2 linked regions of the Homo sapiens genome follow. The protein of the gene in region 2 interacts with the protein of the main gene of each other region in a pairwise test. Each region holds a gene or a part of one and is shown on either strand. Other genes may lie near its edges.

The links. Proteins that work in one complex are often made in the same cells at the same time.
Region 1: the proteins of HAPLN2 (region 2) and MTUS2 interact in binary tests that used the Homo sapiens proteins (3 or more experiments, as listed by UniProt).

The regions. Positions count from the first base shown.
Region 1 is NC_000013.11:29,022,839-29,026,338, forward strand, and holds part of MTUS2 (microtubule-associated tumor suppressor candidate 2), read left to right. Parts: intron 1-1,618; 5' UTR 1,619-1,830; coding exon of another isoform or gene 1,831-1,860; coding exon 1,861-3,500. UniProt on the Homo sapiens protein: Binds microtubules. Together with MAPRE1 may target the microtubule depolymerase KIF2C to the plus-end of microtubules. May regulate the dynamics of microtubules at their growing distal tip.
Region 2 is NC_000001.11:156,622,415-156,626,225, reverse strand, and holds the end of HAPLN2 (hyaluronan and proteoglycan link protein 2 precursor), read right to left. Parts: intron 2,760-3,811; coding exon of another isoform or gene 2,736-2,759; coding exon 2,651-2,735; intron 2,420-2,650; coding exon 2,066-2,419; coding exon of another isoform or gene 2,062-2,065; exon of another isoform or gene 1,929-2,061; intron 1,876-1,928; coding exon 1,759-1,875; intron 1,626-1,758; coding exon 1,443-1,625; intron 1,126-1,442; coding exon 842-1,125; 3' UTR 501-841; downstream 1-500. UniProt on the Homo sapiens protein: Mediates a firm binding of versican V2 to hyaluronic acid. May play a pivotal role in the formation of the hyaluronan-associated matrix in the central nervous system (CNS) which facilitates neuronal conduction and general structural stabilization.

The DNA.
Region 1 (3,500 bases), on a different chromosome or scaffold from region 2:
AGATTTTAAACTCTTTGGGGGCAGAAATAACGCTGATCTTCCTCATCATTCATTTGGACATTTATTCATTCATTTGTGCTGCAAATACATAATACGTGCCTAATATGTATGCCAGGTATTAGACAATATTTATTTTCAGTGTCTAGCAAATCTGAAAGTCTTTTTTTAATTCTTCAAAGTGAAAATACAGGATACTACAAATCCATCATTATAGGATGACCTAGTGAGGAACGCTTCCTGGAGGAAGTGGTAGTTATGTTGCATATTGAAGGATGCAAAGGACTTGTAAGATGAGGTTGGGGGAGGATTCCACATTCCATGCAGATGGAAGAGTATGCGCAAAGGCCCTGAGGCAGAGAGTAATGAACATGGTACTGTGAGGAATGAGGCCAATGTGGCTGCAGCCTGCAGAGCAGAGGGTGAGGTGGGGTTGAGGCCAGAAAGGTGTTCAGGGCCTGATCATGCAGGCCTCGAAGGCCAGAGTAAAGCATTTCCCCCAAGTTTTTATTTTGGAAAATTTCAAACCTATAGAAAAGTTGCAGATGTAATAGAATTATTACCTAGATTTTCAAATGGTTGACTTTTGCCAGTTTCTCTCTTTTACTCTTTCTCCTTCTCATATGCACACACACATACATACACGTTTTTCTTGGTCGAATCATTTGAGAATAAGTTAGAAAAATCATGACATACTACCTCTGAATTCTAAAGCATGTATATTTCAAGAACCAAATTAATCTCTGGCATAATTATAGCACGATTACACACCCAAGAAAATTAATTATAAAATACCTGTACCTTATATACAGTCCATATTTAAATCTCTAATTGTCCTAATAATATCCTTTGCTAACATGTTTTGAAAATCCAGGCTCCGCTGACATTTTTTGGGACCAGTTAGGCCAGTTATTTTGCAATACATACCTCAATTTAAATTTGCCAGATTATTGTCTCATGGTTAAATTCTGGTTGAACATTAACTACTGCATAGGTGATGTGTGGCCCTGAGAACTAACTAATATCAGGAGTCCGTAATGTCAGTTTCATTACTAGTGATGTTAAATTTGATCACGTGGTTAATGTGGTGTCTACCAGATCTCTCCATTGTAAAGATAAAATTTTCGTTTTGTAAGAAATGAAGTAGCCTGGGGGAAGATACTTTAAGCATCTATGAATATCTTGTTCCCCAACAATCTTTTACCCAATGTTTGTACCTTTGGCATCCCTTGTGTAAGATAATTATGAATGTAGCGATTGCAAAATAGTGATTTTTCAAATTCTATAATTTTTTTCTACATTCGTTGATATTCTTCTGTAAAGAAGAGCCCTTACTTCTCCTCCATCCTTTTAAATCAGTATCAGTATAGACTTGTGGATGTTTAAAATTTAGATTTAAGATCTCACATGCATTTATAATCCATTTCTAACATTAAACATTTTGATGTTTAATTTTTGTATTTGGCCAGGAGGAGCCCTGATCAGAAAGGTTTTTTGAGAAAACTATTGATTGAATGAAATAATAATATAGAAATGACAAATAAATCTGTGTTTACCACTTTTTTCTCCTGAGAAGTTCTATTTGTCAATCTAATGTGAATATATTTTTATTTCTCTCTAGGTCTCATGGACTGATTGGCTCTCATTCAGCAGGAACCTAACAGATAAGTCTTCCTGCTGTATATCAAGACAATGCTTGGTTTTCAAGCTGTTCTGAGAATGATTAAAGCAGTGTCGCAAGGTGACATTGTCAGGGGAGAACAAGCAGCTTGAGAATTTCCTCTTAATCTGATTGCAGCTTGAAGGCAGCCCATTTCCATTAAGTAGGACTGCATGGCAAGCAGCCCCACCAAAGGGTTGACAATGAGCGTCCCAGTGGCTCCTAAGAAATCATGTTACACTCAGTTGCGGGACAACAGAAATGCAGCAAGAAATAATAATGAAAGCATCTTAAGTCTGGGAGATACGAATGCCAATCAAATCATGTTGGAGGTCAGCTCCTCTCATGACGAGTCCAAGACATGTGACCTGGGAGATGAAATTGGAAATACAAATTCAAGTGAGCCAGAAAACCGTACCCATTTCCATAAGGAATTTCACCAACTTCAGGGCTTTGGGAAAGGCTCTCAGGCTGGCTCTGCCAGCCTGAAAGATTTTAGACTTTCTTCAACCATTCAGAGGGAACTCAATGAAGAGCACACAGTGGAGAGAGGCACAGATAGCCTGCAGACCACGCGGAGTATTCAGGGACCAAGTCTGTCGAGTTGGAGGAATGTGATGAGTGAGGCCAGTCTAGACGTTTTGGCTAAAAGGGATGCTGAAATTCCCCGGCATGTTCCCAAGGATAAACTGGCAAAGACCCTTGACAATGAGGAACTGAGGAGGCATTCTTTGGAAAGAGCAAGCAGCTCTGTAGCTGCAGTCGGGAGCCTGACTCCGCAGCATCCACAGCCTCTATCCCTCGACTCCCGGGAAGCACGGGGTCAGATACCTGGGGGTGGGGAGGGGCCACAGAAGACATTGCCAGACCACGCTGTCCCGGCAGCTTTCCCTGCAACTGACAGTACCTCAGAGGGAAAGAGTGTGCGTCATCCTAAACCATCTACCTCAGAAAGCAAGCAGAGCACTCCCTCAGAGACCCAAACAGTGGGGGCACATGTACTGCAGGTGTGCAGTGAGCACACATCACATTCCGCCCATCCAGAGCCTGCTCTGAATTTGACTTTGGCATCGAAGGAAATCCCAAGTAAACTGGAAGCACAATTAGGTCAGGGAAAGGGAGAGGCCAAGCTGGATCTGAAATATGTTCCTCCCAGGAGAGTTGAACAGGAGGGAAAGGCAGCCCAGGAAGGGTATCTGGGATGCCACAAGGAAGAGAATCTGTCAGCCTTGGAGGGAAGGGATCCATGTGGGGAAGCACACCCGGAAGCCACCGATGCACTTGGCCATCTGCTGAACAGTGACCTCCACCACCTTGGGGTGGGAAGAGGCAACTGTGAAGAGAAGAGAGGAGTCAACCCAGGGGAGCAGGATTCTCTCCACACCACCCCCAAACAGGGCTCTGCTTCCTTAGGAGGGGCTGATAATCAGCCCACTGGCAAAATTTCACCATGTGCAGGTGAGAAGTTGGGTGAAAGGACATCCAGCAGCTTTTCACCAGGTGACAGTCATGTGGCTTTTATTCCTAATAATCTGACTGACAGCAAGCCCTTGGATGTCATTGAGGAGGAAAGGCGGTTGGGCAGTGGGAATAAGGACAGTGTTATGGTTTTGGTGTTCAATCCTTCTGTTGGAGAGAACAAGACGGAGGTGCCTGAGCCCCTGGACCCTCAAAGTGGCCGCTCAGAAGCACGGGAAAGCAAAGAGGTCACCACATCTGTTGCTGAAAACAGGAACCTTCTAGAGAATGCAGATAAGATTGAAAGCACCTCAGCAAGAGCAGATTCAGTTCTCAATATTCCAGCACCCCTCCACCCAGAGACAACTGTGAACATGACCTACCA
Region 2 (3,811 bases):
ACGCAAGGTTAATTTCCTGTCAATTCTAGCAACAATATGACTTTCCTATCTTTAACAGTAGTCCCCGCAAACGCTTCAGGGAGGTCTGCAGCCTGCACATTTTGAAATATGTTTAAGTTGTCTTATATTTGTTATCTGGGGCACATAGGGTGGGCCTGGTGGCATGGGGCGCCCCTGGCAGATTTGAACTAATCTTAGGTGAGTGTGCGGCGCCCCCGCGTGGCGCCTGGCGCAACAACATGCTGGGTTCTGCGTGGGTCCTGGGCCAGGCGCCCACTACGTCTCCACTTCTCTCTCTCCCTTGGCCTATTGGTGCCCTCCGGCCGCACTCCCGCTCTTCCGCTGACCCATCCCTTAACAGCAACAGCCCTGCCCCTTACCCTGTCTTAGGTGCTCAGTGGGCACGCAGGATCCCGGGTCATCAGCCCCGACATGAGCGTGCACACACACACACACACACCCCTCCACGCCTCGCAGCTCTTACAGCTCCACCCAACACAAAAGATCCCCAGGTTATTTTATTGCTGTACTCAGAGGTCAGTTAATGCCCCCGGCCGCCTCACCCTCCCCCCGGCGGTGGCTGAGTCCTCTGCTAGGGTTCGCGAACGGCAGCGGGTCCGAGGGTCACCTCTGCATCTCGCCGCCGGAGGCGCCCCCGCCTCCCCTCCCCGCCGCCGGGCCAGCCGGGGTCCGAGGCCCGCAGCCCCCGGCTGGGAAGGCAGGTCTGGAGAGGCCGCTCCGGGTCTGGAGGGAGGGGAGGCTCTCCGGAAAGGGGTGGCGAGAGACCCCCGCCACGACTCCCAAGCTTCTTCGCGCGCGCTGGAGGGGACACGGTGGGCGCCTAATTCTCGGCGTAGCAGTAGGTCCCATAGGCTGCCTGTTGGGGCCTGGGGAAGCCGAAACTGCGCACTCCGGGATCCGGGAGCCCCCCGCAGCGCGGCCTCGGCGTGGTGATTGGGAAGCGCACACTGCCGTCAGCCAGCCAGCCGCCGTCGCACTGGTCTAGCCCCGAAAACTTCCAGGCGGCGTAGAGGTGCCCAACCTTGGCCACCACGGCGCCGCGTCGCCGGCACGCCGCGTGGGCTTCAGACAGCGTCAGCCGCCCGGGCACGAAGAACACTTGGCCTGGGGACCACAGCGGGTCACCGACCGAGGGCAGGGTGGGCGGAGAGGGGCGGCTGACACCCAGGAGGCGGAGTTGGGGTGCGGGACCGCAGAGGTGCTGGATCGAGCTTGGGTAAGAGGAGTTGGGGGATCGAGGCAAAAGTGCAGGGAGGGTTTGGAGAGGTGAGCTGGAGCCTGGGCGGGCGGGCGGGCTGATGGGGGGGCGGTGCCTTGGAGGGACCCGGAGACCCTGCCCTGATCTCAAGCTGAGGTCCACTCCTCGTCCCCCACATTTTTCAGACCCCTCCCCAAGACCCTGCCTTCGTCCCGCGCCTCACCCGCCAGCGCGGAGGTGAAGCAGAAGGCGTCGTAGCGGTCGCGCATCCGGTCGCGGGGTCCGTAGCTGCGGATCCCGGGCCGGCCTCGGCCGCCGCACGGGGCGCGTGCGGTGAGCACAGGGTAGCGCACGGAGCCCTCGAGCAGCCAGCCCGCGTTACACCAGTCCAGACCCTCGGTCCAAGCTGGCGGGAGACGGCGGAGGTCGGGGATAAGAGGCGTCATAGGCAGGAGCCAGACTGAGCTCGCCTGGCGCCCTCTCTCGGGCCCCTGAGACAGCTCCGCGGGGCTTGGGAAGTGCTGGGTTCGGCCGCTCACCCTGGTAGAGCTGGGAGTAGGTGGCCAGGCGTCCGTCCTGCTCCTCGCACGCCTGCTTCGCCTCGTAGTAATTGAACTGGTACCGGCCCCGGCTGGGTTGGTACGGAAACACCACACCTAGGGGGTGGCGGGGATCCTGGGGAGGGCCAGCGGATGGGAGCGGAGGGGGAGGAAGGGCGGCGCGGCCTGGGAGAGGGAGCTGGGGTCCCCAGGGGTGCGGAGGAGATACTGGGAAGGAGCCCTGGGAGACCCAGGCGAGGCGGACCCGCTGCTACACAGGAATGGGGCGGGAGCGGAAGGGCCTCACCCTCCAAGCTCAAGGTCAGCGCCACGCTCTCGTCCTCGATGCCGTTGATGAGCTCGCAGCGGTACCGGCCCTCGTCCTCCAGGCGCACGCCCGCGATGACCAGGGAGGCGTCTAGTCGATGCCCCCTCCGCATCCTGGCGCGCCCTCCCAGGGGCCCATACCCCCGGGCGTGCAGTCCGTTGGTGATGAGGATCAGCGTTTCCCGGAGCTCCCCAGGCTCCACCTTGCTCCAGCGCACCTTGTAGCTGGGAGGCGTGGTGCCCAGGACGCAGGGCAGCGTGGCCGTGGCCCCACGATGAGAGTGAATGACCTCGTGGATGGGGGGCAGGAGGTAGTGGGGGCCCGGGTGGGATGCTGGGCAGAGGGGGCCACAGTGGCAGGAACCCCCAATCCTCACTGCCCCAAGTGCCCATCAGACCCTGCTCCCCAAATGCTTTCTCCAGAGCCCCCCAACCCTCTCCTCCATTGCCTTCTCAGCAATGACTTTCAGTCCCTGGGTACCTGCAACAACTGCCCTTTCCCCTTTCCCCACCCTTGCAGTCTCCCCAAGCCTCCCCCAGATTCTGGCCTGGGCTGGGGTCTTACCTGGGTCTCCTTGGGCTTTGTGGAAGATGGTGAAGGCCCAAAGAAGGAAGCGGCAGAGTGTGGGGAGGGTGAGCCAGCCTGGCATGATGGGGGGTCAGCCCGGCACCGTCTGCAGGGCACAAAGAGTGGGCAGTTCTTAGGACTGGGGCAAAAGGGTGGGGAAGAGCAGGGTTGTGGGTGAACTCCCATCAGAGATCCTAGAAGGGACTGTCCAGCTGGAAGCCACTGGGGCAGAGAAAAGGGGTTGGTGACAAAATGAAGGTGATGAGGGGAAGAAGGCAGTAGCAATCCCCTTCCTCTCCCTCTCTTCCTCTGTCACATCCTCTCAGCCTGCAGGTACTAATTTAGCATCTTCTCTACCTGTCCCCCTCATCACAAGTGCTACTTCCCAAGCTTGCCATCTGGACTGCCAGCTCGTCTCTATCCTCTCCCAACACCCATTCTCCATCTTGAAGCCAGAGTCAAAATGATCTTATCACTCTCCTGCTTTTTTATTTTATTTATTTATTTATTTATTTATTTATTTATTTATTTATTTTTTTGAGACAGAGTGTTGCTCCATGGTCCAGGCTGGAGTCCCGTGGCATGATCATGGCTCACTGCAGCCCCTAACTTCCAGCTCCAGGTGATCCTCCCATTTCAGCCTCCTGAGTAGCTGGAACTACAGACATGTGCCACCACACCCAGCTAATTGTTTCTTTTTAAGTTTTTAGTAGAGACAAGGTCATGCTGTGTTGACAAGGCTGGTGCTGGGATTACAGCAGGCGTGAGCCACCGTGCCTGGCCTTGTCACTCTCCTGCTTGAAAGTGACTCCCAGTTGCCCTGAGGATAAAATCCAATCTCATAACCACAGCTTCCAAGGCTGTCTATAATCCAGTTGCTCCCTGCACCTCCAGCATGGTCCCCGCCTCGCCTCTTAACCACTTTGGCCTCTGCACTGTTCCCCTGACATGCTGGATTTCTGGCAGTTTCCCACACAGTCCAAGTTTGCATTCATTTCCTTTCCTTTGTGCCTGCATTGGTCGCACAGGCCTCACCTCCTTTGGGAAACCTTTACCCACCCCCAGTTTGCCACACTGTAGTGCACTGTGATCTGCTGGACTGCGGACCTTTTTTTTTTTGAGACAGGGTTTTACTCTCTCGCCCAGACTGGAGTGCAG